Linked DNA regions of Homo sapiens. The protein of the gene in region 2 interacts with the protein of the main gene of each other region in a pairwise test. Each region holds a gene or a part of one and is shown on either strand. Other genes may lie near its edges.

The links.
Region 1: the proteins of ZNF410 (region 2) and RPRD1A interact in binary tests that used the Homo sapiens proteins (3 or more experiments, as listed by UniProt).
Region 3: the proteins of ZNF410 (region 2) and ARHGEF9 interact in binary tests that used the Homo sapiens proteins (3 or more experiments, as listed by UniProt).
Region 4: the proteins of ZNF410 (region 2) and ZNF24 interact in binary tests that used the Homo sapiens proteins (3 or more experiments, as listed by UniProt).
Region 5: the proteins of ZNF410 (region 2) and RCN1 interact in binary tests that used the Homo sapiens proteins (3 or more experiments, as listed by UniProt).
Region 6: the proteins of ZNF410 (region 2) and GLRX3 interact in binary tests that used the Homo sapiens proteins (3 or more experiments, as listed by UniProt).
Region 7: the proteins of ZNF410 (region 2) and LRIF1 interact in binary tests that used the Homo sapiens proteins (3 or more experiments, as listed by UniProt).

Annotation. Positions count from the first base shown.
Region 1 is NC_000018.10:36,022,268-36,026,710, reverse strand, and holds part of RPRD1A (regulation of nuclear pre-mRNA domain-containing protein 1A), read left to right. Parts: intron 1-1,032; coding exon of another isoform or gene 1,033-1,113; exon of another isoform or gene 1,114-1,825; intron 1,826-4,443. UniProt on the Homo sapiens protein: Interacts with phosphorylated C-terminal heptapeptide repeat domain (CTD) of the largest RNA polymerase II subunit POLR2A, and participates in dephosphorylation of the CTD by RPAP2.
Region 2 is NC_000014.9:73,924,123-73,928,565, forward strand, and holds part of ZNF410 (zinc finger protein 410), read left to right. Parts: intron 1-579; coding exon of another isoform or gene 580-681; exon of another isoform or gene 682-697; intron 698-2,984; coding exon of another isoform or gene 2,985-3,106; intron 3,107-4,443. UniProt on the Homo sapiens protein: Transcription factor that binds to the sequence motif 5'-CATCCCATAATA-3', and is specifically required to silence expression of fetal hemoglobin in adult erythroid cells.
Region 3 is NC_000023.11:63,648,852-63,653,294, reverse strand, and holds part of ARHGEF9 (rho guanine nucleotide exchange factor 9), read left to right. Parts: intron 1-4,443. UniProt on the Homo sapiens protein: Acts as a guanine nucleotide exchange factor (GEF) for CDC42. Promotes formation of GPHN clusters.
Region 4 is NC_000018.10:35,337,024-35,341,466, reverse strand, and holds part of ZNF24 (zinc finger protein 24), read left to right. Parts: intron 1-733; 5' UTR 734-816; coding exon 817-1,236; intron 1,237-1,490; coding exon 1,491-1,638; intron 1,639-2,393; coding exon of another isoform or gene 2,394-2,407; exon of another isoform or gene 2,408-3,696; coding exon 3,697-4,235; 3' UTR 4,236-4,443. UniProt on the Homo sapiens protein: Transcription factor required for myelination of differentiated oligodendrocytes. Required for the conversion of oligodendrocytes from the premyelinating to the myelinating state.
Region 5 is NC_000011.10:32,096,927-32,101,369, forward strand, and holds part of RCN1 (reticulocalbin-1 precursor), read left to right. Parts: intron 1-217; coding exon 218-411; intron 412-1,423; coding exon 1,424-1,602; intron 1,603-3,621; coding exon 3,622-3,682; intron 3,683-4,443. UniProt on the Homo sapiens protein: May regulate calcium-dependent activities in the endoplasmic reticulum lumen or post-ER compartment.
Region 6 is NC_000010.11:130,170,465-130,174,907, forward strand, and holds part of GLRX3 (glutaredoxin-3), read left to right. Parts: intron 1-1,119; coding exon 1,120-1,172; intron 1,173-4,402; coding exon 4,403-4,442; intron 4,443-4,443. UniProt on the Homo sapiens protein: Together with BOLA2, acts as a cytosolic iron-sulfur (Fe-S) cluster assembly factor that facilitates [2Fe-2S] cluster insertion into a subset of cytosolic proteins.
Region 7 is NC_000001.11:110,950,423-110,954,865, reverse strand, and holds part of LRIF1 (ligand-dependent nuclear receptor-interacting factor 1), read left to right. Parts: intron 1-2,050; coding exon 2,051-3,578; intron 3,579-4,443. UniProt on the Homo sapiens protein: Together with SMCHD1, involved in chromosome X inactivation in females by promoting the compaction of heterochromatin.

The DNA.
Region 1 (4,443 bases), on a different chromosome or scaffold from region 2:
ACTTAGAAATTTGGAATTAGCAAAATTGATTGCATTTAAAAATTATTCTTGTGAAATTCCATGCAACTATAATTTATCTTACCAGTTTAACCCTAATGTATCACAGAAATAATAGGAAAATAGCAGGTGGCAGTCACTTGTAGTAGGATTTATTTAGTTTCTGTTTTGAGAAGATGTAGTCTTTTAGGTATACCATTAAGTCTTTAAATTACTCCCTTAATTCCACCCGCCAATTCTAATGCTTACATGTTCCAGCCCCACTCCCGGCTCACACTCTTAGGCAGAAATTCATTGCTCCTGTAAATTAAGTAATAATTAATACCGCTAATGAGAAATCTGGGAGTACAGGAGGTGATTTTAAAAAATGCTCGTATTTCCTTTGATTAGAGTAGCAATTGTTAGGGATACATGAGCCAGATTTGGTTTTATGTAAAAAAAATCTTTCAGTTGATGAGTTCTTGTTTAAATTGTATTGCTGTGGCAATTTCTTATTGTAATAATATGTAGGAGAATTTCTAATTTGAATCCCTTTATTTACAGAAAGCTCACTGTAAATTTGTAGGAATGTCATGGTACTACCCCATTAAGTTATTTTTATTAGTGTTTAGTTATTGATTCAGCAGTCTCTAATTGTGCCAAAAATGGTGCTTAGATTAGATTGCCATTGCTACCCATGGGAGCTGCTACTTAATTATTCCCACCTCAAATTCCCAGCTCTCAAGTTAGCACTACTCCTTTGCAATTTACTCCTTCTCTGCTCGTATAAATACCCTCAGATGATGATAGTTGGTGGCCACTATACCTTTGAAGAGGTTGCCCACTTCTACATGGAAAGGAAAAGATGGTTTTTTTTTTTAAAAGATGAATTTGATAATTAACTTGCCACTATTTCACCTTGTGATGAAACCTCAATTTTAAACATAGTGTTAATTGTTTTATTGTCCACAGAATTAAGGGTAAGTAATGTCATACAATTTTTGTCTTTAGTCTTTTAGTATGGTTTCTTTAACTTCTATTGAGCTTCTGTTGCAGATATTGGACATGGGCGTATCTTCTAACGATGTCGTCACCATTAGTATATTCTTCCTGCTAAAAATAAATATCAAACCCTGAAGCCTGTATTGTCTCATGTTTTTGAAAATTGAAGAGAAGACTGTAACTTTATTCTGCTTTATACTTTCTCACTTATGATGATGGTCATTTGTCACTGTTTACAAAAACAGAATTTATATTTGAAGTGTAACTGTAGAAAATAGATCAGATGCCACTCCCCACAACCCCCTTTTCCCCCAGTGCCTTCCAGCCACATTTCATAGTTGACAGTCATAGATTATGAGGCTGATGATAATAATAATGTTAACATTCATGTGTCAGGTACTATTCTAGGCACTTCACATAAGCAACTCATTTAATCTTACACAGCAGGATGTATTATCCACATTTGATAGATACAGAACTGAGGCACAGGAAGATTAAGTAACTTGCCTAAGGTCACAAAGAGCTAGTGAGTTGTTTGGAACGCAGAGAATCTGCCTCCAGAGCCAGTGCACTTCATCAAAAAGACACATTGCTTCCTGTTTTTACTTAAATCTAAGATTAAAGCAAATGCTAAAGTCCTATTTTTTCCAACTTTTTCTGCTCCCTCTCTTCTCAGAGGTAATCACTGTCTTGAAATAAAGCCTTCTAGGAACTTTTTTTGTTGTTCTTCTGCATAACTGGATTTTATATTATAAAGAAGAAATCACCTCAATTATGTTCAGCTGTTTTTTAACAAGTAAATACTCTTTACAAGTACAGAAATAAACTTGAAAGTTATTCCACAGAACTCTTTGTAAATTATCACTTAGAACTATGTTATTCCTTTGTAGAAGATGTGGAAATGATTTGAGATATTTAGACTTTTTTGTACCAAGTAGGTGGCATCACTTTGAAGTTGAGACTGAGAGGTGAAGATTTATGTTTTCTGAATCAGCTGTGATACTATCAAGTAATTTTCATCTATTGTGTATCTTTGAACATTAACAGTGGTTGACCAGATACTGATGTGTCATTTGTTGCTGCATTTTTGATAATGGAACATAAATTTAAAGTATCAGTTCGGGAATTGGCCATTTCATATTTCTTAAGGAAGCCATTATTAAAGCATGTGTAATGAATGAAAACATGAAGTGGTTTAAAATTTGTGTTTTAAGACAATCATTATTTTTGAAACTTCTGACTATAGTTGGTTACTAAGCAGAAGCAGATAACTGTTGGGCCGGGTGTGGTGGTTCACGCCTGTAATCTCAGCACTTTGGGAAGCTGAGCTGGGTGAATCACTTGAGGTCAGGAGTTCAAGACCAGCCTGGCTGACATGGTGAAACCCCATCTCTACTTAAAAAAAAAAAAAAAAAAAAATTAACCAGGTGTGGTGGTGGGTGCCTGTAGTCCCAGCTACTTGGGAGGCTGAGGCAGCAGGATCACTTGAACCTGGGAGGTGGAGGTTGCAGTGAGCTGAGATCACACCACTGCCCTCCAGACTGGGCGACAGACCGAGACTCCATCACGCGCGTGCGCGTGCACACACACACACGAGATAACTGTTAAAATAGACTATTAATAACTTTAGTTTACATTTATAATATTTAGGGATTGCTATAGGAATCATTTTACCATTATGAAGTTGAAAGTATTGCATAAACTGTTTTTCAGTTAGCTTATTATCTTGGAAGGCATACATGAATAGGAGAATTAAAATGACATTTTGACTTTGACATTGTTTCCTAGTACATACAAAAGTTATGTTTACAACTTTACTGTTGTCTAAGTATTACAATTACACTTTACTGTTGTCTAAGCATTAGGATTACATATAAAATTACATATAAAAAATGTACGTATCTTAGTTAAAAATGCTTCATTGCTAAAAAAGACTAATCATCTGAGCCTTCTGTTAGTCATAGTCTTTGCTGGTGGAGGGTCTTGCCTTGATATTGATGGCTGTTGACTGATTAGGGTGGTGATTGCTGAAGGATGTGGCTATGGCAGTTTATTAACACAGTGATAAAGTTTGCTGCATCAGTTGACTTCTTTCTTGAAAGATTTCTCTGTAGGATGCAGTACATTTGATAGCATTTTGCCTACAGCAGAACTGCTTTCAAAATTAGAAGCAATTTTCTCAAGCCCTGCTACTGCTTTATCAAGTAAATCCTTTGTTGTCATTTCATCTCCACTGGGAGTAGATTCCATCTCAGGAAACCACTTTATTTGCCCATCCATAAGAAGCAACTCCTCACCAACAAGTTTTATGAGATTGGAGCAGTTCAGTCACATCTTCAGGCTCCACTTCTGTGTCTCGTTCTCTTGCTATTTGCAGCAGATCTACAGTTATTTTCACCACTGAAGTCTTGAACCCCACAAAGTCAGCCATGAGAATTGGAGTAAACTTCTTCCAAACTCCTGTTAATGTTGATATTTTATCTCCTCCCATGAATCATGAATGTTTTTAATGCCATCTAGAATTGTGAATCATTTTCTGAAAGTTTTCAGTTACTTTGCCGATATTCATCACAGGAATGACTATGGCAGCTATATAGCCTTACGAAATGTATTTCTTAAATAGTGAGACTTGAATGTCAAAATTGCTCTTTTATCTATAAGTGGCAGAACACGTGTTAGCAGGCATGAACACTAGTCACATTGTACATCTTCATCAGAGCTCTTGGGTGACCAGGTATGTTGTCAATAGTAATTTTTTATTATTGTTATTTTGGAGACAGTCTCTTGTTCTGTCACCCAGGCTGGAGTAGTCATGCAATCACAGCTCACTGTAACCTCGAACTCATGAGTACAAGTTATCTTCCTGCTTCAGCTTCCAAAGTAGCTAGGACTGCAGGTGTGTGCCACCATGCCTGGCTAATTTTTAAATGTTTTGTAAAGAAGAGTTCTTGCTGTGTTGCCCAGGCTAGTCTTGAACTCTTGGGTCAAGCAGTCCTCCCACCTGGGCCTCCCAAAGTGCTGTGACTACAGGTGGGAATCACTACATCTGGCCAATAGTAATATTTTGCAGGTCTCAACAGTTGGCTTAAAATACTCAGTAAACTATGCTGTAAATAGATGTATTGTCATCTATACTTGTTTCTTTTATAGAGCACAGGCAGAGTAAATTTAGCATAATTCTTAAGGACTCTAGAATTATTCAGAATGGTAAATGAACATTGGCCTCTACTTAAAGTCGTCAGCTACTTTAGCTCCTAATGAGGGCCAGCTTGTTTGTTGAAGCTTTGAAGGCAGGCATTTATTTCTCTCTAGCTATGAAAGTCCCAGGTGGCATCTTCTTCCAGTACCAGGCTCTTTTTTCTACATGGAAAATCTGTTGTTTAGTGTAGCCACCGTCATCAACGACCTTAGCTAGAGCCTCTGGGTAACTTGCTGCAGTTCTTAGTTCAGCCCTTGCTGCTTCAC
Region 2 (4,443 bases):
GAACCATTACCTAAATCAATGGTCTCCAGCCTTTTTGGCACCAGGGACCGGTTTCGTTTCACCTCAGGTCATCAGGCATTAGATTCTGATAAGGAGTGCGCAACCTAGATCCCTCAAATACACAGTTCACAATAGGGTTTGCGCTCCTATGAGAATCTGTTGCTGCTGCTGATCTGACAGGAGAGGTGGAGCTCAGGTGGTAATGCTTGCTCACCTGCTGCTCACCTCCTGCTGTGTGGCCTGGTTCCTAACAGGGCACGGACCAGTGCTGGTCCATGGCCTGGGGGTTGGTGACTTCTGATCTAAACAAAAAGGGTTTGAGGTTGAGCTAAAGCACTTTCAACTCTGTAGTTTGGCTTTGACTCAGGAAACAGAATGCAAAGTGGTCAGTGTTTTAAAATCTTGGGATATTTCACTGGTCTTGTGTCATGGGAGTGGATGACTTCATCACGAGCACATTTCATATGCATAAACTTTTGTCAAAACCTCTGTAGCTTGGATCCTTTCAGTATTACATTAGTTTTTATGGTGCTCTTCCGTCTTTTCTCCTCTTTTCTTTTCTTTTTTTTTTTGAGACAGAGTCTCGCTCCGTTGCCCAGGCTGGAGTGCAGTGGTGCGTTCTCGGCTCACTGCAACCTCTGCCTCCCAGGTTCAAGCGATTCTCCTGCCTCAGCCTCCTGAGTAGCTGCTACTACAGGTGCGTGCCACCACGCCCAGCTAATTTTTTTGTATTTTTAGTAGAGACAGGGTTTCACCATGTTGGCCAGGATGGTCTCGATCTCTTGACCTCGTGATCTGCCCACCTCAGCCTCCCAAAGTGCTGGAATTACAGGCGTGAGCCACTGCACCCAGCCTTCTTCTTTTCATTATAACCTTTATACCACAGTAAGCTGTTGCATCATTCAAATGACTCTGCATCCTATATTGAATATTCTCCATTATTCTCTAATATCTTTGGGGGTACCCAGGATTACAGGGTTCTGGGCATACATGTTAATGCTTTTGCCAGGACTTTTCTTTTTATTGTTGTGACCCATTGTCTTTGCTTATATTTAAAGTTTTTGATCTTGATATCATTGGTTCTTTCCTAAGTCACTTTTTCTGGTAACTGCTTTGGAATGAATCATACATATCTCACTTACGGAGCCTTCCTCTTTCTCCTCCATTTTTCTTGTCTTCATTTTTCTATTTTAAAGCTTTTATTATGGAAATTTTCAGAGTACAGTGAGAGAGAGACTAGTATGATAAACCCACGTCGAAGTCGAAGTTACGGCTGAGAGCGGCAGCTCACACCTGTCTCCTAACTTTGACTTTTTTTTTTTTTTGAGATGGAGTCCCACTGTCGCCCAGGCTGGAGTGCAGTGGTGCGATCTCAGCTCACTGCAACCTCCGCCTCTCAGGTTCAAGCAATTTTCCTGCCTCAGTCTCCTGAATAGCTGGGATTGCAGGCACCCACTACCAAACCCGGCTAATTTTTGTATTTTTATTAGAGATAGGGTTTTACCCTGTTGGCCAGGCTAGTCTGGAACTCCTGACCTCAAGTGATCCACCCGCCTCAGCCTCCCAAAGTGCTGGGATTACAGGTGTGAGCTGCCGCACTTGGCCCTAACTTTGACAGTTAACTTTATGCCATGCTCAGTGGCCCATGCCTATAATCCCAGCACTTTCGGAGGTGGAGGCAAGTGGATTGCTTGAATCCAGGAGTTCAAGACCAGCCTGGGCAACATAAGACCCCTATCTCTACAAAAAATACAAAAAAAAATTAGCGGGACGTGGTGGCATGTGCCTGTGGTCCCAACTACTCGGGAGGCTGAAGTAGGAGGATCACCTAAGCCTGGGAGGTTGAGGCTACAGTGAGCAGTGACTGTGCCACTGTACTCCAGCCTGGGTGACAGAGTGAGACCCTGTCTCAAAAGACAAAAACACAATTAACTTTATACTGTTCTTGTTTTATCTCTTTCCTCCTTTTGTTGTTGTTGCTGTTTATGATGGAGTATTTCAAAGCAAATTGTAGGCATGTCATTTCTTCTGTATATATTTCAGTATATGCCTCTAACAAGATACAATATTAAAAACTATAATATCTTTACCACTTCAAACAAAGATAACAATAATTTATTGTATTCTCTAATAGTCTATGTTCTTTTTTTCCTCCCCCTCAAAAATATCTTATGGTTGGTTTGCTAGAGTCAGGATTCAAACAATGTCTGTATATTGCATTTGTTTAATACTTCTCTTAATTCTCTTTATAATAGTCCTTTTTTTTCAGTATGGTTATCTATTTAAGGAACTGGGTTTTTTGTTTTGTTTTGTTTTTGTTTTTGTTTTGAGACTGAGTCTCACTCTGTGGCCCAGGTCAAGAGTGCAGTGGCGTGATCTCGGCTCACTGCAACCTCTGCCTCCCAGGTTCAAGCAATTCTCCTGCCTCAAGTCTCCCAATTAGCTGGGATTACAGGCACCTGCCACCAAGCCCCACTAATTTTTGTATTTTTAGTAGAGACGGGCTTTTACCATGTTGGCCAGGCTGGTCCCAAACTCCTGACCTCAAGTGATCCACCCACCTCGGCCTCCCAAAGTGCTGGGATTACAGGCGTGAGCCACTGCGCCCGGCCAGGAATTGGGAGTTTTTGTCCTAAAGATTTTCCCACATTCTGGTTTTGGCTGATTGACTCCTTTTGTTAATATTAATTTCTCTATCCACTGTATTTCCTAAAAACTGGTAGTTACATTTAGAGGTTTGATTAGATTCAATTTTTCCCCCTTGGCAAGAATATTTCATAAATGGTGCTCTTGCTTCCTATTACATCTCATCAGGAGGCACATGACAATCAGTTGATCTTAAGATTGACTGGTAGGTTATGTAAAGGTTTTGGCAACCATTACTGATCATAGCCTAGATCTATTTTTCATTAAGGCCTGCAAAATGGTGATATCCTAATTCTCTTGTTCCCTCTGTGTTTATTATGATTTTTTTTTTTTTTGAGGTGGAGTCTTGCTATGTTGCCCAGGCTGGAGTGCAGTGGCACCATCTCGGCTCACTGCAACCTCTACCTCCCGAATTCAAGCGGTTCTTCTGCCTCAGCCTCCTGAGTAGCTGGGACCACAGGCAGGTGCCACCACGCCCGGCTGTATTTTTAGTAGAGACGGGGTTTCACCATGTTGGCTAGGCTGGTCTTGAACTCCTGACCTCAGGTGATCCACCCGCCTCAGCCTCCCAAACTGCTGGGATTACAGGCATGAGCCACTGCGCCCGGCCTAATTGTGATTCTTTTATACAAGAAATACTTCTCTCATCAACCATAGGGTTGCCCTGAAATCGTCATTTCAGGAAAACCATCTCGTTTTTCTTTTACCTAGTACACATTATTATTCGAGCAAGCCAACCCACAGCACCTAGCCTTTTCTTTTTTATATTTGAAACCTCAGAGCTTTTCTCTCCTGTATTGGTAAATATCTTTAAAATTCTCCACGTTACCCAAATAAATGCCAGATGTATGAAAATTTAATTCATTCAGCGGCTAGTTACCACATACCTAGTATGTGTGGGGCATTCTGCAGGGTACTAGTTATACAATAGTAAACAAAATATAGTCTCTGCCTCAAATAGCTTATAGGCAGAATTAGGACCTTCATAACTATATATATGGTGCTGGAGTTGCACTGTACAGTGAGGTTAGGATGGGAGAAGTGACCAATTAATCAACCGGCAATTTTTTTTTTTTTTTTAATTTTTTAGACGGAGTCTCACTCTGTTGCCCAGGCTGGAGTGCAGTGGCACAATCTCGGCCCACTGCAACCTCTACCTCCTGGGTTCAAGCAATTCTCATGTCTCAGACTCCTGAGTAGCTGGGATTACAGGCGGCCACCACCACACCCAGCTAATTTTTTGTATTTTTGATAGAGACGGGGTTTCATCATGTTGGCCAGGCTGGTCTCAAACTCCTGACCTTAGGTGATCCACCCGCCTCGGCCTCCCAAAGTGCTGGGATTACAGGCATGAGCCACTGCGCCCAGCCTAAACTGGCAGTTTTTAAGTGTAGTACGTTCCAGTCTTGGGAGAAGTCAGAGAATATGTTTTAGAGTTTAAGTTGAGATGGGAGGGATGAATAGACATCATCTTGATGGAGAAGTAGGAGTTGGAAGAATATAACAGGCAGAAGGACAGCAGTGTGTACAAAGGTAGAAGGTAAGGGAGTAGAGGGCCTCTGTGGAACTGTAAATAGGGTTGAGTGTGATGGGACATGGGATGAAGAGATGGGCTGGAGAGGAAAATTGAGAGCTGGAAAGATAAGCTAGTCTCTTGAAAGGTCTTACAAGGCATGATTTTATCCTGGGGGCACTGAAGAACCACTGCATGGTTTGAAGTAGGGTATGACGTGATCAGATTTGTGTATTCAGAATATCCAGTAATAGTACATTTGTTCCCTAGAACCTAGGCACAAG
Region 3 (4,443 bases), on a different chromosome or scaffold from region 2:
AGAGAAGCTCATGAGAAGGATGAAGTGGCACAGACATGGGCTAAAGCTGTGGTGCACAGGTAGAATTTCTGCCCTTTCTGTGTGAGACCTAGGCTCTACTTTTAAGGTCTTGCAACAGATTCAGTCAGGTCCATCCAGATTATCTAGGATATTGTCCCTTATATAAAGTCAACTGATTAGGGCCTGTATTAGCCCATGTTCACAGTGCTATAAATACCTGAGACTGGGTAATTTATGAAGAAAAGAGGTTTAATTGACTCACAGTTCTGCAGGCTTAACAGGAAGCATCACTGGGAGGCCTCAGGAAATTTAGAATCATAGTAGAAGGCAAAGGGGAAGCAAGCATCTTCTTCACATAGTGGCAGGAGAGAGAGAGAGCAAGAGGGAAGTGCCACATACTTTTAAACCATCAGATCTCGTGAGAACTCACCCACTATCATGAGAACAGCATGGGAGAAATTCCCCCCATGATCCAATCACCTCCCACTAGGCCCCTCCCCCAACACATGGGGATTACCATTCCACATGAGATTTGGGTGGGGACACAGAGCCAAACCGTATCAGGGGCTTTGATTATATCTGTAAAATACCTTCATGGCAACACCTACATTAGTGAGGACTACAGTCTAGTCGAATGGGCACATCAATAAATTCATCACACTTTTCTTATAAACAGCTGTATAACATTCCATAATATTATGTAATAACCACAGTCATCTCTTGGTATGCACGGGATATTGGTTCCAGGACTCCCGTGCATATCAAAATCCATGGATGCTCAAATCCCTTATATAAAATGATATAGTATTTACATATAACCTATGTACATCCTCCATATACTTTCAATCATTTCTAGATTATTTATAATACCTAACACAATGTAAATGCTATGTAAATAATTGTTATACTGTATTGTTTAGGGAATAAAAACAAGGCAAAAATCCATATGTGTTCAGTAAAGAAGCAACCAGCCGCTTTTTTCTGCATATTTTTGATCCACAGTTGATTGAATCCAGATGTGGAACCCATGGTTACAGAGGGCTGACTGTTCGTTTTTTGCTAGACATTCATTTTATATTTAGCTTTATTTCCCACTACAGATATTGCTGCAATAAATATCCATGTACGTATCTGATTGTTACTTACTGATGCTTTTATTCCTGTAGGATCTGTACCCTAAAGTGGAATGACTGAATGTTAGGATGTGAACAGTTTTAATACATACTTGCATATTAAATTCTGAAAGATTTGTAGAATCTATACTCCTAGCATAATTTTATGAGTACCCACTTCCGCATAGCCTCACCAGCACTGGATAGTATCTATTTGTTTCAGTTTGCCATTTCTCAACTAGTAAATTGAAAAAAAGTGTTGGAACCTTTTTTTTTTCATATGCTTAATGGCTATTTTCATTTCTTTTGTGAATTGCCTCATACCCTTTACTCATTCTTTTAACATAAATTTGGAAGGACTCTATATTGTTGATGTGACACTTTGTCAGTCACGAATTTCACGTTTTCACCAGTCTGTTTTTTGTCTTTTGAGTTTGTTTATATTGCCTACTTCTATAAATATTTAAATTTTTACTTTGAAAAATGTATCTATTATTCCTTTTTTGGCCCCTAGTTTCATCTTGCTTAAGATCTCTTGCCATCCAAACTATAAAATTTCCTGATTAAAAATATATTTTTGGTTTATTTTTAGAACAGTAATCCATCCGGAATTTACATTTTTATATGATGTGAGAAAGGGGACCTCATTTTTTTCTTCAAGGTGGATAGTCAGTTGCATCTGCATCATTTATTAAATAAATCATTTATTTTCCACACAGTTTAAATGCCATTTTTCATATATAGTAACTCTGCATATATACTTAGATGTGTTTTTAAACTTTCTATTCTGTTCCACTCTTCTGTTTGTCATTTCTTGTATCAAGACTATGCTGTTTCAATTACAGTAGATTTTGAGAAAGATTTAATGCCTGGTACAATCAATTCTTATTCACTCTTATCATTGCTTCTTAGCAGTTCTTAGATGTTTATTCTTTGATATGAATATCAAATTTATTTATTCTAGGTTTAAAAACACTGCCGTAAAAACTGGCATAGAAAGCCCATTTGGATTCTGATTGGCATTATATTAAATTTTTTAATATGTAACGGCTTGGCATTGTTATTAAGTTTTCACATTTAAGACAAGGCTCTGCTCTCCTTTCATCAAAATCTTGTTCTGTATGCTTCAGGAAAATGGTAGAGTTTTCTTTAGATTCTGTACATTTCTGCCTCTTTGTACATTACTTTTGATAATTTCTATTTTTCTGGGAAATTGTTCATTTCCTCTGGATTTTTAATTTAATGCTATATATCTACACATAATATTTTCTAATTATCATATCTTCCATAATTGTAGTTATCTCTCTTCTTTTGGGTTCATAATATTTCATATATTTTTATTTTCTCACTTTAATCTTTTAATCAGGCTTATCAGGGAGTATTGATCTTTTTTATGTATATATAATCATTATACATATTTTTAAGGTACATGTGATATTTTGATACCTGTATACAATGTGTAATGATCAAATCAGGGTAATTGCGATATTCATCACCTCAAATGCTCATCTTTTCTTTGTGTTGGGAACATTCCAAATATTTTTTTTAGCTATTTTGAGATATACAATAAATTATTATTAACTCTAATTTCCCTACTGTCCTATCACAAACTAAATCTTATTCCTTCTAACTGTGTTTTTGTACCTATTAACCAGCCCCTCTCCATTGACCTGAGCCTTTCTTTCTGAGCCACTGATAATCACCATTCTACTCTCTATCTTTATGAAATCCACCTTTCAGCTCCCATGTATGAGGGAAAATAATCTTATTTCACTTAACATAATATCCTCCAGTTCCATCCATGTTTCTGCAGATGACAGGATTTCATTTTTTTATGGCTGAATAATATAACATCGTGTATATATGCCACATTTCCTTTATACATTAATCCACTGATGGGCATTTAGGTTGATTTCATATTTTGGTTATTGTGAATAATGCTGTGATAAACATGAGAGCATAGATATTTCCTCGGTATATTGATATCCTTTCTTTTGGATACATACCCAGCAGTGGCATTGCTGGATTATATAGTAGTTCTATTTTTAATTTTTTTAGGAACTTTTCTACTGTTTTTCTATAATGGCTGTACTAATTTACATTTGGTCGTTTCAAAGAACGTGTTTTTGGTTTGTTTATCCCTTCTGCAGTTTATTTCTGTTTCTTCTTAATTTTCACTTTTATTTCCTTCTTTTTCCTACTTTCAGGATTTAAGGAATATTTTAGATCCTTTCCACTCTTTCATTGACTGAATACTTACTTTGTTTATTTTGATTTTTACAAAATCAGAAAATCATTTTAGACATGGGAGGGTGTATGTGTCGAGGAATTTGTCCATTTCTTCTAGATTTTCTAGTTTATTTGCGTAGAGGTGTTTATAGTATTCTCTGATGGTAGTTTGTATTTCTGTGGGATCAGTGGTGATATCCCCTTTATCATTTTTTATTGTGTCTATTTGATTCTTCTCTCTTTTCTTCTTTATTAGTCTTGCTAGTGGTCTATCAATTTTGTTGTTCTTTTCAAAAAACCAGCTCCTGGATTCATTGATTTTTTGAAGGGTTTTTTGTGTCTCTATTTCCTTCAGTTCTGCTCTGATCTTAGTTATTTCTTGCATTCTGCTACCTTTTGAATGTATTTGCTCTTGCTTCTCTAGTTCTTTTAATTGTGATGTTAGGGTGTCAATTTAAGATCTTTCCTGCTTTCTCTTGTGGGCATTTAGTGCTATAAATTTCCCTCTACACACTGCTTTGAATGTGTCCCAGAGATTCTGGTATGTTGTGTCTTTGTTCTCATTGGTTTCAAAGAACATCTTTATTTCTGCCTTCATTTCGTTATGTACCCAGTAGTCATTCAGGAGCAGGTTGTTCAGTTTCCATGTAGTTGAGCGGTTTTGAGTGAGTTTCTTAATCCTGAGTTCTAGTTTGATTTCACTGTGGTCTGAGAGACAGTTTGTTATAATTTCTGTTCTTTTACATTTGCTGAGGAGTGCTTTACTATGTGGTCAATTTTGGAATAGGTGTGGTGCTGAGAAGAATGTATATTCTGTTGATTTGGGGTGGAGAGTTCTGTAGATGTCTATTAGGTCTGCTTGGTGCAGAGCTGAGTTCAATTCCTGGATATCCTTGTTAACTTTTTGTCTCGTTGATCTGTCTAATGTTGACAGTGGGGTGTTAAAGTCTCCCATTATTATTGTGTGGGAGTCTAAGTCTCTTTGTAGATCTCTAAGGACTTGTTTTATGAATCTGGGTACTCCTGTATTGGGTGCATATATATTTAGGAGAGTTAGCTCTTCTTGTTGAATTGATGCCCTTACCATTATGTAATGGCCTTC
Region 4 (4,443 bases), on a different chromosome or scaffold from region 2:
AGTATAAAAAGTATAGTAAATACATAAACCAGTAACATAGTCGTTTATTATTGTTATCAAGTTTTATGTACCATACATAACTGTATGTGTTAAACTGGCAACACAGCAGGTTTGTTTACACCAGCATCACCACAAACATGTGAGTAATGTATTGACCTTACAACAGCTACAGTGTCACTAGGTGAATCTTGAATTTTTCAGCTCCATTATAATCTTATGGGAGCACTGTCATCTAGGTGGTCCTTCATTGACCCAAACATCATTTTGTAGTGCATGACTGTGTTGGGTTTTTTTTAGGCCATCTAGTCTGTTGAAACTACTCAACTCTGCTATTGTAGCGTGAAGTATGAGTAAGTACAATTATTTATGGACACAGTCATGTTAATTTCATATCATTTTCACGTGTCATGAGGTATTCATTTGATTTTGGGGAGCTCCATTCCCTAAATATCATTAGGTATTCATTTGATTTTAGGGATCTCCGCTCCGTAAGGCACTGTGATGAAGACCACAGCCATTTAAAAATGTGAAAATTATTGTTGGTGCAAGTGTTGTACAGAAATGGGTGGCAGGCTAGATTTGGCCGTGAAGCTGTAGTTTGCCAATTCCTGGTGTAGGTTATTGATTGGAATTTTTAACTCAAAGAACAAGTATCTTTTACTTTTACCAGTATAAGTTCAAATTCTTAGGATATTTTTGCTTATTTATATATCTTTTATTTCTTATGCCTCAGGAGTGCCTGTGAAGAAAACGGGGTATTGCCCTGAGGCTTATATTCTGCCTCAGTTGTCTTTTCTTGAAATATTATAAATCAGAATGTCTGCACAGTCAGTGGAAGAAGATTCAATACTTATCATCCCAACTCCAGATGAAGAGGAAAAAATTCTGAGAGTGAAGTTGGAGGAGGATCCTGATGGCGAAGAGGGATCAAGTATCCCCTGGAACCATCTCCCAGACCCAGAGATTTTCCGACAGCGATTCAGGCAGTTTGGATACCAGGATTCACCTGGGCCCCGTGAGGCTGTGAGCCAGCTCCGAGAACTTTGCCGTCTGTGGCTCAGGCCAGAGACGCACACAAAAGAACAAATCTTGGAGCTGGTAGTGCTGGAGCAGTTTGTTGCCATCCTACCCAAAGAGCTACAGACTTGGGTTCGAGATCATCATCCAGAGAATGGAGAGGAGGCAGTGACAGTGCTGGAGGATTTGGAGAGTGAACTTGATGACCCTGGACAACCGGTGAGCCTGCTTGTGTCATTTCCTGTGTCAGAAGCACTGGCATAGGTAGTAGGCAAAGCTGCTGAATTAATTCCACTCAACTAAGTTAGAATTATGTTTATGCCTTTTCCCCCATTCCCCTACCACTCCTTGTTATCTGTGCCGCTTTGCCATCTAGGCTTCTGCAGTATTTGTTTCATGGGGTTTCTCTTACGTGTTTTTAGTTCTGATTCTCATTACAGTTCCTTCTCTGAATCAAATCTTTCTGTTTCCAGGTTTCTCTCCGTCGACGAAAACGGGAAGTACTAGTAGAAGACATGGTATCTCAAGAAGAAGCTCAGGGATTACCAAGTTCTGAGCTTGATGCTGTGGAGAACCAGCTCAAGTGGGCATCCTGGGAGCTCCATTCCCTAAGGCACTGTGGTGAGGACCAGAACTCTGTGTGGGCTAGAGGGTGAAAGAGAGTATAGGCCTTTTGTTCAGAACTTTGCTTGTTCTCACTGGTGGGGGGATCATATCACTCTTAATCTAATATCTCAGTTTTTTTCTGATTAAGTTGATTTTGCTGGCCTCAGACCTTTTATTCCTAGACATTAACATCTTCAGCCTTTTCTTCCCTTTCAGTCTCCTTCCTAAAAAGAGTTGCCCATGTCAGGCTAGCATTTGCCTTACTTTGAGCCAGCACCCACCCATGGACCAAGTCCCTCTATTTTGCATTCAGTATTACTTGTCATCTGTTTTACATCCTTTTACTTTCAATCTCCTGCCTAATTCCATTGGTACAGTAAGCTTACCTGAAAACCTCTTCTAATCTCTTTGTTGTATATCACTGAAATCTTTCTAAATATTTATTTCTGATTTCCTTCAACGTCTACCTAGAGTCATTTTCTTCTAAGAAGCTTCTTTTGTAGAAATATTTGGAGTAATTTTTTTCCTTTTTCTAAGTATTTATGCAAAAAAAGCCTCCTTAGCTATAACATGCTTTAAATGCAGAAAAATCTTTTTTAAAAGCTCAAAGTTGTATTAATTCACGAGACCAGTCTTTCCCAATATATTAGCCATTAACACCATATACTTATGTGTATCCTTTGATATGGCCCAGTATATTCCTAAAACTGCTAGATTGCTTTCTCATGTTTATGTGAACTAAAATGAAATTTTGTTTGACTCTGCTTTAGTAATCATTCCTTGAAGTAGTTGGAGATGGTGCTGGTATGCCACTGAATGAGGTCTGAGCAGGTTTTCTTCACATCTGAGGGGACAGTGCCAGCCAGTCAACTTTTGGGGTGGGGCTGAAGTCTGCTGAAAATCTGCAGTTTTACATGTTTCATGGGACATTCTTCTGTGCAATAAAGTTTGAGAAGTATCATTCTTGATATATGGGGCTGATATTTTCAACTTCTCATCATCTGAATTTTAGAGTGACTTTTCACCTGCGTTCCTTATTTCAGCTGTCTAGTCTCTTCCACACTTGGGAATTTCTGTTTCCTGTGTGCCGTTTGTCTCCACTTAATCTTCACGCTCCTCTGTTTTTCAAGTCTCCAAGCCTCACTATCCTCCTCTAACCTTTCAGTCTCTCTCTCTTAGCCTTATCTCCTGACTTGATCTTTTTGTTAATTATTTACTGTTTTCCTCTTCGCTGAAGGCAGTTGCTAACCCTATATGAACTGGATCTTTACTCCTTAAGGCATGAAGTTTTAGAAAAGTCTTAAATGACACTTGCTGTTATCTCTGCCTGCGTGTGAGTGATGCTAACCCATGTTGGTAATTCAGGCTTTTCTTTCATTGGACACGTTTCACTGAGGCTTAGAAATAACGATTTTTCTAAGTACCATGACAAATACCACATGGGAGAAGCTGCTTTTATTGGAAAACTTTCATTTATTAGGGGCATACTGAATTTTTATGTCATGTCTTTGGTTAACACAGGAGGCCCCCAGCTTATCTTCAGCCCCTTCTTGTCAAGACTCCTGTGTTCTGCTTTTAGGCTAACATTGGCTGTGACCTGACTTGGCTTGTTCATTTCAGAAATAGCCACTTTCTGACATGTTTTTCTAATTTACATCTTTGTATTTTGATGTAATTTCTCCCTTTCTCAAAGTAAAAGAACATTATAATGATTTCCTAGTGGCCAATTTTATTTTATTTTTATTCTTACAAAGTTTCATCCATACCTAGCCACATCATTTTGACTATCTCCCTAACCATCTTAGAATCTACCATCTTTCTGACCTTTGTTTTCTGACTACCATTTGTAAACCACTTGCCTATGTTTTATTCAGATATCCCTTATATCATGATGTTATACTGTTATTCAGAGTAATTTCATTTTTTCTTTTTTGAGAATAGGCCTTAACACCAGTGTCAGAGTGGTTTATAGATGTGTGCTAGCTATTTTAGTTCATTAAAAAAAAAATTTTTTTTAGGTTTCTTTTCCCTTAATAGATAATGAATGATATTTACATTTTCTGTTTATTTCAGATGATGATGGTAGGACTGAAAATGGAGCACTAGCTCCAAAGCAGGAGCTTCCTTCAGCATTAGAATCCCATGAAGTTCCTGGCACTCTCAATATGGGTGTTCCTCAAATTTTTAAATATGGAGAAACCTGTTTCCCCAAGGGCAGGTTTGAAAGAAAGAGAAATCCCTCTCGAAAGAAACAACATATATGTGATGAATGTGGAAAACACTTCAGTCAGGGCTCAGCCCTTATTCTTCATCAAAGAATTCACAGTGGGGAGAAACCTTATGGATGTGTTGAGTGTGGGAAAGCATTCAGCCGAAGTTCCATTCTTGTGCAACACCAGAGAGTCCACACTGGAGAAAAACCTTACAAATGTCTTGAATGTGGGAAAGCCTTTAGCCAGAATTCGGGGCTTATTAATCATCAGAGAATCCATACTGGGGAGAAACCTTATGAATGCGTTCAGTGTGGGAAATCGTATAGTCAAAGCTCAAATCTTTTTAGACATCAGAGAAGACACAATGCAGAAAAACTTCTGAATGTTGTGAAAGTTTAAGAAATTGAAAAAAAAAAAAGAATCAGCACTCAGGTCTTTTTCTTCAGAAATGAAGACAAAATTTAAAATATGAAATGATGCAGAATAGTTTTTTCCCTATTGACTGTCAGAAAATCCACTGGGAAATGTAAAAATCTTCACTCACCATTATGATATTTATCTTGAAAGAAATGGTGTCATACCTGCCTAGAAACTGAAATTTTAAACT
Region 5 (4,443 bases), on a different chromosome or scaffold from region 2:
CATCAGCACTGGTTGGGGGAAAGCACATCAACCTTGGAAGGATAAACTTGAAGATTCCTTCCAGCCTCCTTGGATCATTGATTCTGTTGTAGTTGTATGTGCATTTTGGATTGTGCAGGTGTTTGATCTTTTGCTGGACCAGCATCACACAAGCCTTGATAATATAACAGCCTTGTGCCTGTGTGTGGGTTTCTTTTTTTTTTTTTTTGTACTGCAGGAAGATTGTTGATCGAATCGACAATGATGGGGATGGCTTTGTCACTACTGAGGAGCTGAAAACCTGGATCAAACGGGTGCAGAAAAGATACATCTTTGATAATGTCGCCAAAGTCTGGAAGGATTATGATAGGGACAAGGATGATAAAATTTCCTGGGAAGAATACAAACAAGCCACCTATGGTTACTACCTAGGTAAGAGGTGCTGCAGGAGCGATGACACAGTGGGGGCCCAGATCACAAGCTTTTTGTAGACTCTCTCTTCTCTTATCATATCCACTCCCTTCAGGGAGATGTCACAGCCTCCTAAGTAGAACCTGCTTGTATAACACCCTCCTCTGTAAACTCAGAATGTACTGAGTTGCTTACACTGAATGAAGTTACAGGTGGGAGGGAAGGGCTGTGAGGGCTAATAAAAAAAATCCCTTAGATTGAGACCCCATCTCAACTTCGTCTCAGATGCACACACGGAGAAGAAAGCAGAAAGGAAGTGTGTCTGTGGTATATTTTCAAAATGCTGCCTAATTCTGGATAGCAAGGATTGAGTGGGCCGGAGCAGTCAGGGAAGGCTTCCTGGTGTGGGTGGTTTGGAAACTGGAGCCTTGGAGAATGGATTTATATTTGGAGAAGGTGGGTCAACTGGAGGGGCAAAGATGCAGCAATGCATGCAGTAATGGGAAGGGTTTAGATCCAAGACAAACAAGATCGGGAGAAGGAAGGAGAAATGAGATTACAGAGGCACGGGGTGCAGACCTGCTGGGTGCATGGTGAGGTTGGCAAAGAAACAGGCCCAAGGAGAACCAAAGATGCACTCACGCGGCCAGAATCGGGGAGATCTTGAAAGCCAGGCACGGCGTTGAGACAAGATGTTTTGGGTACCAAAGAGCCTCTGTATGTTCCAGATCTAAGAATGAGATGATGAAAGTAGAGTTCTGCAAAGAGAAGTATGGCAGTAATATAGTCTAAAGCCTGCGCTCTTAACCACTTGCAGTAATTCCCCTAATATGCCATGAGGCCTAGATTATGGGGTGGCTTGAAGGGACTGATATTAGAGGCATTCTGACATAGAATGTTTTAAAGAACTCAGTAGGTCGGGACCTTTTTTCCCTATATGTACCATTTGAGCATGCAGGATGAGTGATCTGGCAGGAAACGCCTTTCTTGACCGCACGGTTTAAAAACATTTCTGCATACATACATCCTGCAGGAAACCCCGCAGAGTTTCATGATTCTTCAGATCATCACACCTTTAAAAAGATGCTGCCACGTGATGAGAGAAGATTCAAAGCTGCAGACCTCAATGGTGACCTGACAGCTACTCGGGAGGAGTTCACTGCCTTTCTGCATCCTGAAGAGTTTGAACATATGAAGGAAATTGTGGTTTTGGTAAGATAAGTGAAGAGTCTGGGCTGGGAAGAGACCAGGGAGAAAACTGCCTCCAAATCTTGTCTCTTCCAAAGAGAGAAGATTTTTCAGCCTGAAGGGAATTGGAGAAGGACTCTGAAGTAGAGTTTGTTGGAATCCCCGTCTACCCAGAAAATTAGTCAGGTCAGGCTGGCTGCTGTAACAGATAGCCCCCAGTTGTAGCCATTTAACACTAGCAAAGCTTGTTCCAGCCAGATGGACCTCCTGGGCTGTTCTCTGAGCACAGTTGGGTACCCAGTTCTCCTCTAAGCACTCCTGCTTGTGCTCTGCCATCTTGTAGCTTCAAAGTCATCCTGGCAACACCCAGCTGGCTGACAAAGGAAAAGAGAGGGAATGAGAAGATACAGTCTTTGTTTACTCTTCCGGCCAGGGAATGACACATCCCCTTCACGTATGTTCCACTGGTCCCTCCTAGATATGAAGAGGCTGGGAAATACAGTTTAGATACGTGCCTAGAAAGAGTAAATGGGGCCCAGGCACAGTGGCTCACGCCTGTAATCCCAGCACTTTGGGAGGCCGAGGCAGGCGGATCATGAGGTCAGGAGTTTGAAACCAGCCTGGCCAATATGTTGAAATGCTGTCTCTACTAAAGATACAAAAAAAATTAGCCAGGCATGGTGGCATGTGCCTGTAATCCCAGCTACTTGGGAGGCTGAGGCAGGAGAATCGCTTAAACCCAGGAGGCGGAGGTTGCAGTGAGCCGAGATCGTGCCATTGCACTCCAGCCTGGGCGACAGGGTGAGACTCCTTCTCAAAAAAAAAAAAAAGAAAGAGCAAATGGCTTAAGTGAGCAACTAGCTAGTCTCTGCCCCATTTTTCAATTTTAAGGGACTTGGAAAAAGACTCAGAAATGGAATGAATTGGATTGTTAAAACTGTATGGAAATGTAAAGTAAAAATTATGGCTGGAAGAGATGCTACCCTTAGCGGGTGGGTCTTTGGAGGGTGGGTGGATCAGGCCCTAGGCTTTGAGGAATGACTATGCTTGTAAGGCCTCAGAATGTAGTTGCTTTCCGTAGTGTCTTGTTGGGTCCCAAATGTCTTCATTTTCCATGACAATTAAATAAATGCCATCACCTGTTTTCCTGGGCAGATGCACCAACCCAGTTCCAACTGTTTCAATCCTGGGAAACAGATGGCTAGAGCTTTTGTTTACACGAGCTGTGGATGGTTTTAGTTATCCAGGTGGTGGAAGGGTCCACTCATGCTTCATCCTCCTGACTGCCATGACTGTAAGGACTGGGCAGTGGCTCCAAGAATCATTTCTCTTTACCACTCAACATTCATGTAGTGTTAGCTAATGTGGCAGAGGACAGTGCAGGTGGTGAATGATCCCGAGTAGACTACGAGCCTTTGGGAGTGGCTCTCTGCTCTCAGGTTGGCTCTTTGGTTTGACCCAGGATGCCTCTGAGTTGCTGTGCCAATGAACAGTAAACTCATTTAATTATTGACCCAATCAAAAAATACTGAATAAGAGGTCAAGTATACTAAATACAGAGCACAATACATCAAAAAGTCAGATATACTTTTATTTTTTAGTTGCCCACTGTTTCACATTTCTCTTGACACCAACTCAGTATTCATAGTCCTGTTAGCACTAGAGTCTATTCTTGTGGTCATCTAATCCAGTGGTTCTCACACTGGGTTTCTCGCATGTTCCCCAGTGGGTGTTTTGGCTGGATGGTGGAGTTAGTTGGCCTGGCAGGGCCTCCTGATATCGTCAGAGCACCTCTGGGGTTACAGGTACATCTTGCTTGCTTTGAAGAAAGCATTCTGCTCTGGAAACTGGGGTGGGGGATTAGGAACAGAAACTATTGCCTGTTTTTTACAGATAAAAAACTAGTTCCCAGGGAAGTAAGGCGATGAGCCAGAAGTCACCAAGCATTCAGCCGTAAAAGCTGGACAAATGAGGACAATAGAATTCTCAGACTTCTTAGAGCACATGGCCATCTTGCATTCTGTTTTACCTTTTGCTTCCTAGGAAACCCTGGAGGACATCGACAAGAACGGGGATGGGTTTGTGGATCAGGATGAGTATATTGGTGAGTACTGACCTAGAGTCTTGCTCAGCTGTCCTGACTGGGCCACATGACCCCACCCACACGTCTGGCTACTTTCCCCAGACGTCTCTTTTAGCAACAGCTGCAAGTCTATACGTCACTCCTGGGAGCTTCCAGCCTGCTTGTCCCATCAGCCCTAGTGATGTAGTATCAGGGAAGTATTATTAGGCCTCATTCAGTGGAGAAGAGATGAAAAGGCTGGCCCTACACAAGGCTGGCCAACAGTTGGCCCCATGACTCTGAGAGGTGCCCTTCATCACACTGCCTAGTTTTACCTTTGCAAAAGGACATTGGAGATCCCATAGATTTACAGTGAAGATAGAGGAGACAGTGTCAGGGCAAAGCCTCTAAAACTGGACTGGGTCAATGGAGCCTAGAAACTCTGAGTAGATGCAGCTGTGATTAACAGAACTGTTTATGTGTCTGAGCACTTTGCAGAAAGGCATTCTTCTTAGAAAGATAAATGCTTTACAGAGTGCACAATTGCCCAATAATATGCTCATTTTGTGCCCCTCGTTTCCCATCCTTTGGATGGGAGTCCTATAGTGTCAAATTAATGTATTTGGGTCTGAACCCACCATTGCTGGTTAGAGCCCTTCCTGGTAGCCCCAAATCCCCCCCAGCCCAACCCCCCGCTAGAAAGGACTAGAGCAGGCAACAAGGACAATTCCATTTGATCCTCACCACCTGCTATGGCACATGGCTCCAGCTGCAGGCTCCCTTCTCATGGCAGCTCTTTTCCC
Region 6 (4,443 bases), on a different chromosome or scaffold from region 2:
TAATGAAAGTAACAGTAACAAAGAAAATGTTAATATAAATTTCAGCATGTTGGAAACATTAGGTTAGGGCCTAAATTCTTTGATTTTGGTTCAGTGTATTGAAACAATAGAGGAAGTTAATAATTCCTAGTAATGATAAAGTGACATTTTTTCTTATTCTCGGTAATGGTTTAAGTGGATATTTATTCTCAAAACTATTTTTTTCTGGAAACCTAGAAAGTATTAATACATTTTGGAAACAATGTTATTGGGGCTATTAAAATGTTGACATGGTACCATATCTTTTCCACAAGATTGCTGGAATTTGGAGTCCTGTGGCATGAAAAAAGCTTAAGATTTTCATAAACTCAAAAAAGTGTTAGTATTCTGTAATGTAAAAATAAATGAGGCTGGATGCGGTAGCTCATGCCTGTAATCCCAGCACTTTGGGAGGCCAAGGCAGGTCCGAGGTCAAGAGATCGAGACCATCCTGGCTAACATGGTGAAACCCCATCTTTACTAAAAATACAAAAAGTTTGCTGGGCGTGGTGGCGCATGCCTATAGTCCCAGCTACTCGGGAGGCTGAGGCAGGAGAATCGCTTGAACCTGGGAGGTGGACATTGCAGTGAGCCGAGATCACACTCCAGCCTGGGGACAGAGTGAGACTCTGTCTCAAAAAATAAATAAATAAATAAATAAATAAATAAAATAAAAAGAAAAATGGGAGTCAGAATCCAGTTGGAAATGGGAAAATAATTGTCATAATCATTGCAAAAAGGCTAAGTGAGTTAAGATCATTTTGCATGAGTGAATTAAACAATGAACTCAAATCTCTGTAGAAAATCTCGGTTTCACTTAGAGGAACTTTTTGACCACAGAGAATATAAACTGTTGGAACACATGTCATCTCAAGTGGTTACAAACCAAAGGAAAAGGAAGTCTGTGGGTCACGTGTGCCTGGGTTGATGTGTAGATGGGTTCGTACTTGAAGAGGGGATGAGCAGAAGCTCTGGGAGCTGAGTGAAAGTAGTGGCAGCTATGCTGGACAAGTGCTGTGCTGGTTGACAAGAGTATTAGGTACAACCATGCTGCTTGGGTCATACAAAAATTGTAATCTTTGCAAATTTTTTTTCATTTAGGAAGCAAAATGTGGATTCAGCAAACAAATTCTGGAAATACTAAATAGTACTGGGTATGTAAATGTTGTTTTCAAATGGTGTATTAAAAAAATTCCAACCTGGCCAGGCGTAGTGGCTCACGTCTATAATCCTAGCACTTTGGGAGGCTAAGACAGGAATATTGCTTGAGCCCAGGTGTTCGAGACCAGCCTGGACAACATAGTGAGACCCCATCGCCACAAAAAATAAAAAAATTAGCCAGGCATGGTCACATACATCTATGGTCCTAGCTACTTGAGAGACTGAGGTGGGAGGATCACTGGAGTCTTGGAAGGTGAGGCTGTAGTGAGCCGTGATTGCACCACTGCACTCAGCCTGGGTGACAGAGCAAGACCCTGTCTCAAAAAAAAGAAAAAAATATTTCAACTTTTCAGTTCTGCCACTGATACTTTTCAGTTGTAATGTCTATATCCATACATATCTGTATCTTTCTTTATTTTTTGCTGTATTGTTTTGTGAATGCCTTAACTTAGATCAAAATAGTATTTTCTGGCCAGTGTCAACCTATTAGTAACATAAAGGAGGTCTTTAGGCCACCTTTGGAATAACTATTTGTCTACTTTCCCAGAGGAAAATGTATAACTGAGTCCTCACCATGCATAAAGATATTTCAGGGGAATATATTATAGGTAGTTTTTAATTTTTCTCAAATATCCTAGTTGCTAAACAGTACAGAAAGCTGAGGGGCACATATTAAGGTCCATTACCTGGATCTGAGAGGTAGCACAAGTTAAATTGCAGTGCTCCTAGTTTTGATGTGCTCAGTGGTGAAGCTGTCAGGTAAGAACATTGCCATTGATTTTTGTGGTTAAAAACAAAAGCACTTATTTGGAGATATACAGCACATGTTCTATAGGGTTTGTCAGATATTTTTGTTTATTTCTCATTTCATGATTGTATCTTTTAAAAATCATGTATTCTAACTGTAGCTTCAAATAAATTACTTTCAAGTAATCTTTGATATACTTCAAAGATCTATTGAAAATAGTTAAATAGTACAGGTTGAATACAATTTCAGGGACATAAAAAGAATATAGGGCCAGGCACAGTGGCTCACACCTGTAATCCCAGCACTTTGGGAGGCTGAGGTGAGTGGATCACTTGAGGTCAGGAGTTCGAGACCAGCTTGGCGAACATGGTGAAACCCCGCCTCTACTAAAAATACAAAAATTAGCCGGGTGCGGTGGCGCACGCCTATAATCCCAGCCACTCAGGAGGCTGAGGCCTGGAGAATCACTTGAGCCCAGGAGGTGGAGGTTTCAGTGAGCTGAAACCACGCCACTGCACTCCAACCTGGGTGACAGTGAGACTCTGTCTCAAAAAAAAGATGTGGTTGTCGTCTTTAGATTACTATGACATTTTATAGAAGCAAGTATAGTCAGTTTATTGTAATTGTAACTTCAAGCCTGTTCCTTTCTTCACCCCTGCCCTGGGCCATACAGTGGGGGCTGGCTTGTTTTTGGTCATTTTTGATTTTCCCCTTTCTTTGTCGACCCTCTGCTGCGGGTCCACAGTGAGACACACACAGTCCATCCCTCTCTAGCAGTACCAGGTTCCTCAGGTGTCTTCTGAGCCGACACACTGGGCCTGACTCAGCTCGTGTCTTTGGTGGAACATCTTGGTAACTTGGCTTTCTGTCCCATATCTGTCTAATCTCCATTGTATTGAAAGCACCCTGTTGTCGCAGAGAGCAGGAGGATGCTTTGGGAGAGCATGACCTCCCAGCTCTGGACTTGCTAAGCGTGATTGGCCCTAGGATGAGTGAGGCCATCCAGGACCTCAGCTTCGCTTAACACGAGCAGACCATGCTCTTGCTGGGCGCCAAATGTATGTGGAGAAAACTCCTTTTTACTTTTTCTCATTTCTTATCTTTTCCTTTAGTAGCCAAAATACACATGCATGAGTGGTTGAGAACCAAGTGTATATTGAGGTTTGAAAGGTACCCTTTATGAATAACTTTTAGGAAGTATACTGGCTGTTAGGACTCCACATACATACACTTGGGCCCAGTGCTTCCTGGATCCTTTATGAATAGTTGTATAACTCATTGTTTTTATCACAGTATTAAGAGATCTGCCACCTTTAGTTCAACTTGAACAAAGACTTACATTGGGGTTTTTAAAAAGCATTAGGTTTACATTGGGGTCTTTTTTTGTTCTTCTTTCAAACATTCCTTTTTTGGTAATTGCTTCTGATTTATCCCGTCATTTAGTTTTTTTGACTGTTCCCTGTACCATAGACAGTTTCCTTGGGAACTTGTTTACTAAATAAACAAGATTTCCCTATGATGGTTTCAGTTTTATGGAAAGTCCAGTTTTTTTTACATGTAGCATTTTCTTTGGCCACCTTTGGGAATTGCACCTGTACCCTCAGGCACCCTGCAAGGATTTAGGCATACATGCTTGCTAATACCTGACCACCTAACGGTGAAATCGCTCTGAGTGGATACAGTTGGATATTCATGCAGTGATTTTTCATTTTTTGTACAAGTAATGTTCATTGTATGGTATAAAGCCACAAAGCTTTCATTGGCCTTTTGTACATTAAAAACAGCACCCTCTCTGAAATAAGTTTAAGTGTGGAAAGCATGTCTCTTGCTAAGGTGGAGGGAGCTGGCAGCGTGGTTGTTATCCGGCTGCTGAGCCCTCCAGCCTCCGTCCACGAGCACTACTACATCCTGCTGCACGGGCAGCTTCCAGGAGGTTAAGAAGCAGCAGCCTGGGGTGGGTTAGACATTAGAAGTGGGTAAGAGTGTTCAGTTAATGAAGGCTCGTGCAGATGGGGGTGTGGGTCTGATCCAGGGGTTGGCAAGTTGCAGCTGGCTGCCCATTTTTGTAAATAAAGTTATATTGGCACATAGCCACATCCCTTCATTTATACATTGTCTGTGGCTGCTTTTATGCTGACAGTTGCAGCAGAGAGCAGAACTGAGCAGTTGCAGCAGAGACTGTCTGGCCTGTAAAGCCTGAAGTGTTTAGTGTCTGACTCTTTAAGAAGAAGTTTGCCCACCCCTGGTCTAACCCAATATTGTCCGGAGAAAAATCCAGATAAAGTCATATGTTGGAATGACTAATTCTGTGTAGTACCAGACAGATTAAGAAGTAAAATCATTTCCATTGGTCTGTAGTACATTTTGTTAGCAGTGAAACGGTTTTCTTGATTATTTTAAAAACATCAAATGCATAGAGGTTTTACACTTTGATTTAACTGTATTTCCAGTTAAAATGTCTTCTCTTTTTTGCAGTGTTGAATATGAAACATTCGATATATTGGAGGATGAAGAAG
Region 7 (4,443 bases), on a different chromosome or scaffold from region 2:
GAGTTGGCAAAGAAGACTGAGGAGCCACTACAGAGGCTACTGTTACTCTTTTGATTTTTAAAAATCAATTAAAATATAAGAATGCACAGAAACAGAGTGGGCCAGATTAGGCCCAGAGGCTACAGCTTACTGACCCTTTTTTCCTGATGAGCCTGGTGCTTAACTTAAAACAGACACTTGGTAAATTTTTGTGTAATGACTTAATATTGAATATGTTCTTATCCAGGTCAAATGTGCTTTTCTTGTGGTGCAGGGAGGTAATAAAGGTAGATTTTTCCTCTTAAAACCCTGAAAGCAAGAATTCATCCTTTTCTTTGGGTTTATTCTCTTTAGAAGTTAACTTTTAATTTATTAAAAGTCAGTGTGTGACCAGCCTGGACAACATAGCAAAACTTTGCCTCTATAAAAAATACAAAAATTAGCCGGGTTTGGTGGCGTGCATCTGTGGTCTCAGCTACTTGAGAAGCTGAGGTAGAAGGATAGCTTGAGCCCAGGAGGTGGAGATTGCAGTGAGCCAAGATTGTACACCTACACTCCAGTCTGGATGACAGAGCCGGGCCCTGTCTCAACAGCAACAATAACAAAATGTCAATGTAATATTTTGACCCACTCTCACGTGTCCAAAAGACTTTTAAATTTTTGTAAGGATATAATAATGTTATTCGGGCTGCAGAAAGGTAAACCAAATTTCTACGGATACATAGAATTTTGGGTATTGATTTTTATTAATACCTGAGAGTTTTAAAAACATACCTTTATGCTTTTGAGAATCCTAATTATTATCGTTATTATTTGCCCTTGAACTTTTGTATTTATTTGATCTTAGTTATCTAAGACCATGCTAGGTCTATGGTATATGGATGCTGCACTCATATTGGTAGAATATAATATGAGAGACAGTCTATAGACAAACATATTAATATATGATGACAATCTATGATATATACCATGAAGGAAGCTAACAAGCATAATGTTATGGATTAATTATGAAGGAAAGACAAGGATAAAGTGGTCAGAAAATGTATCTCTTGAGAAATATCATTTATGCCAAGACTTGAGCTATGTGAAGAGTTGAGTTGGGTGAGGCGTACCTAGGTAGAGTGATAGTATGTGTGACATGAAAGCTCAATATTTCCCAGGAGCTGAAAAATGTTTTAGATATAAATAAGGTAAGGTATTTACATTCAAGTAATCTCCAAATAACTAATTATGCAAACAGAGATTAGTATATATTGATTTTTCTTAAGATTAGACAGTCTATACTAAGAAATAATTCAAGGCATGGGGGTCAGAATTGATTCAGTTAAAAAAAATTGATTTCCAGTCTGTTCCACATTGATTGAAAACCATTCAGCTGAAATTGCAGTGGTATTATATGTATGGGTTGATAGGTGATTGACAATTGACTAATATAAATAATTGCTATACCAGAGACTATGTAGCACTAAACCTCAAATGTGCTGAAACAGTAATCAGAAGAAAATGATTCCTATGTAAACAGTTCAGTGAAATCTATAGCACAAAAATGTGGCAAACTAAGGTAACACCATGAGAGATAGCTTAGGCAAAAGAAGAATGGCTGGCAGAACTTGTGAGTTATTGAAGGAAGAAGACAGAACAGATTGAGGGGGAAAAGAGAGAAATGGAATAAGAGTAAGGGGAGAGGGAATGAGAATCTTCAGTTAGAGTAGAGGAGGAGGACAAGAGGAAGGAATTCAGGGAAAGGGGGAAGGGAGGATGCTAATATTTTAAGAGGAGCTTACTTTAGTAGTATAATTTTATATAGGGCAAAACCTTAGAAATGTCTACTTTTAGTCTTAGGAATAAATGTTATTATCTCATACCCATTGCCTAATCATATAAGCAGTTGACTATATCATTATCTCTTCTACTTCAAAATATTTGTTTTGCAGTCTTTCACTTTAAAAACTCAAAATGGAAAATTATATACTTTATTTTAATATTTACAAATATTTACAAATATTTATTTTTAAATAAAATGTATATACCATGTAGTATGTTGTATTTATTTACTCAATGTTCTTTTAAGTGTTTCAGGCTGCATGTACCAAGTAGTTCAGACGATTGGCTCGGATGGAAAAAATCTTCTGCAATTACTTCCAATTCCTAAGTCTTCTGGAAATCTTATACCACTAGTTCAATCTTCAGTCATGTCTGATGCTTTGAAAGGGAATACAGGAAAACCAGTTCAAGTTACTTTTCAGACTCAGATTTCCAGCTCTTCCACAAGTGCATCAGTTCAATTGCCCATTTTTCAGCCAGCCAGTTCTTCAAACTATTTTCTTACAAGAACAGTAGATACATCAGAAAAAGGTAGAGTTACTTCTGTGGGAACTGGAAATTTTTCTTCATCAGTTTCTAAAGTTCAGAGTCATGGTGTGAAAATTGATGGACTCACCATGCAAACATTTGCTGTTCCTCCCTCAACACAAAAAGACTCATCTTTTATTGTAGTTAATACCCAGAGTCTTCCAGTGACTGTGAAGTCTCCAGTTTTGCCTTCTGGGCATCATTTACAGATTCCAGCCCATGCTGAAGTGAAATCTGTACCAGCGTCATCATTGCCTCCTTCAGTGCAGCAAAAGATACTTGCAACTGCCACCACCAGTACCTCAGGAATGGTTGAGGCCTCCCAAATGCCAACCGTTATTTATGTATCTCCTGTAAATACAGTGAAAAATGTAGTTACCAAGAACTTTCAAAACATTTACCCAAAACCTGTTACAGAAATAGCAAAGCCAGTAATACTAAATACCACACAAATTCCAAAGAATGTTGCTACAGAGACACAATTGAAAGGTGGTCAGCATTCTCAAGCTGCTCCAGTGAAATGGATTTTCCAAGATAATCTACAGCCTTTTACGCCATCTCTTGTTCCTGTTAAGTCTTCAAATAATGTGGCTTCAAAGATTTTAAAAACTTTTGTAGATAGGAAAAATTTGGGAGATAATACTATAAATATGCCACCATTGAGTACCATCGATCCTAGTGGGACGCGATCCAAAAATATGCCTATTAAAGATAATGCTTTGGTTATGTTTAATGGGAAAGTCTATCTGTTGGCTAAAAAGGGGACAGATGTTCTGCCATCACAAATTGACCAACAGAATTCTGTTTCTCCTGATACTCCAGTAAGAAAAGACACGTTACAGACAGTGAGTTCAAGTCCAGTCACAGAAATATCCAGAGAGGTTGTAAATATTGTTTTGGCTAAAAGTAAATCTTCCCAGATGGAGACAAAATCACTTTCCAATACCCAGCTTGCTTCCATGGCCAATCTAAGGGCAGAGAAGAATAAAGTGGAGAAACCATCTCCTTCTACCACAAATCCACATATGAACCAATCCAGTAACTACTTAAAACAGAGTAAGACTTTATTCACAAATCCAATCTTTCCAGTTGGATTTAGTACAGGACACAATGCCCCCAGAAAAGTAACAGCCGTCATTTATGCTAGAAAAGGAAGTGTCCTCCAGAGCATAGAGAAAATAAGTTCCTCTGTTGATGCAACAACTGTTACTTCACAACAGTGTGTTTTCAGAGACCAAGAACCAAAGGTAATTTTCCCATGTCAGGGTGCTCTTTTTATATATCTATATAGAAAAGTTTGTTTTCTTAATTCTCAAAGTTATCTATGATACCTCTTTCCCCCACTGCCAACCCCATCACACACAGACTATACACATATGAGTATTTAAGTCAAAACTTCCATCTGAGCAAATTTGAGGAGGAGTACAGTTGGGTACAATCTTGTACAAAGGAGTACAGTCTTTCTCTTGAATCACTTGGCATGCCAAATCTTTAAAACAAAAAATTCACAGAGCAAAAAGGTTTAGAAGAGTTGGGGAAGGATAATGTGAATTCAAAGCTTAGTAAAAATATGTGAGTATATGTATATACATACATGTATATATGTATGTTCATATATAATAGCCTTTTTAGTATATGAGGAGATCAATATGCATGTAAAAGAGTTGGTTTTGGGGTTTTGTGGGGTTTTTTTGTGGTGGTGGTGGTGGTATACCATGGAAAAGGTGAGACAGGGCTAATCAATACCTTTCAGTAATTTGTGGAAATAAGATTTTATCAGCATCTTTGATGGGTTGATTTTTTTTTTGGTAGACAAATTTCATTTTCCTTTTTATTAGCTCTTTGTGACTCCTCAGCCAGTTACCCAACATGCCCACATAGTTACCTTTATGTTCGACTTAAGGTTTGTCTGTCTGTGTGCTTACTAGATATTTGTACCCATCTTTTCCTTGCTTACTTAGAGGTCTACTCAATAATGTCAGCATTTCTCCCCTTCAGTACAGAATTCATTGAACTCCAGAGATGTAAGGAGGTAAATTCTGATTGTTCAATACAAGATCGATTAAAGGCATGTGTGACTTTTCCAGAAGACTACAATTTCTAAATAATGTC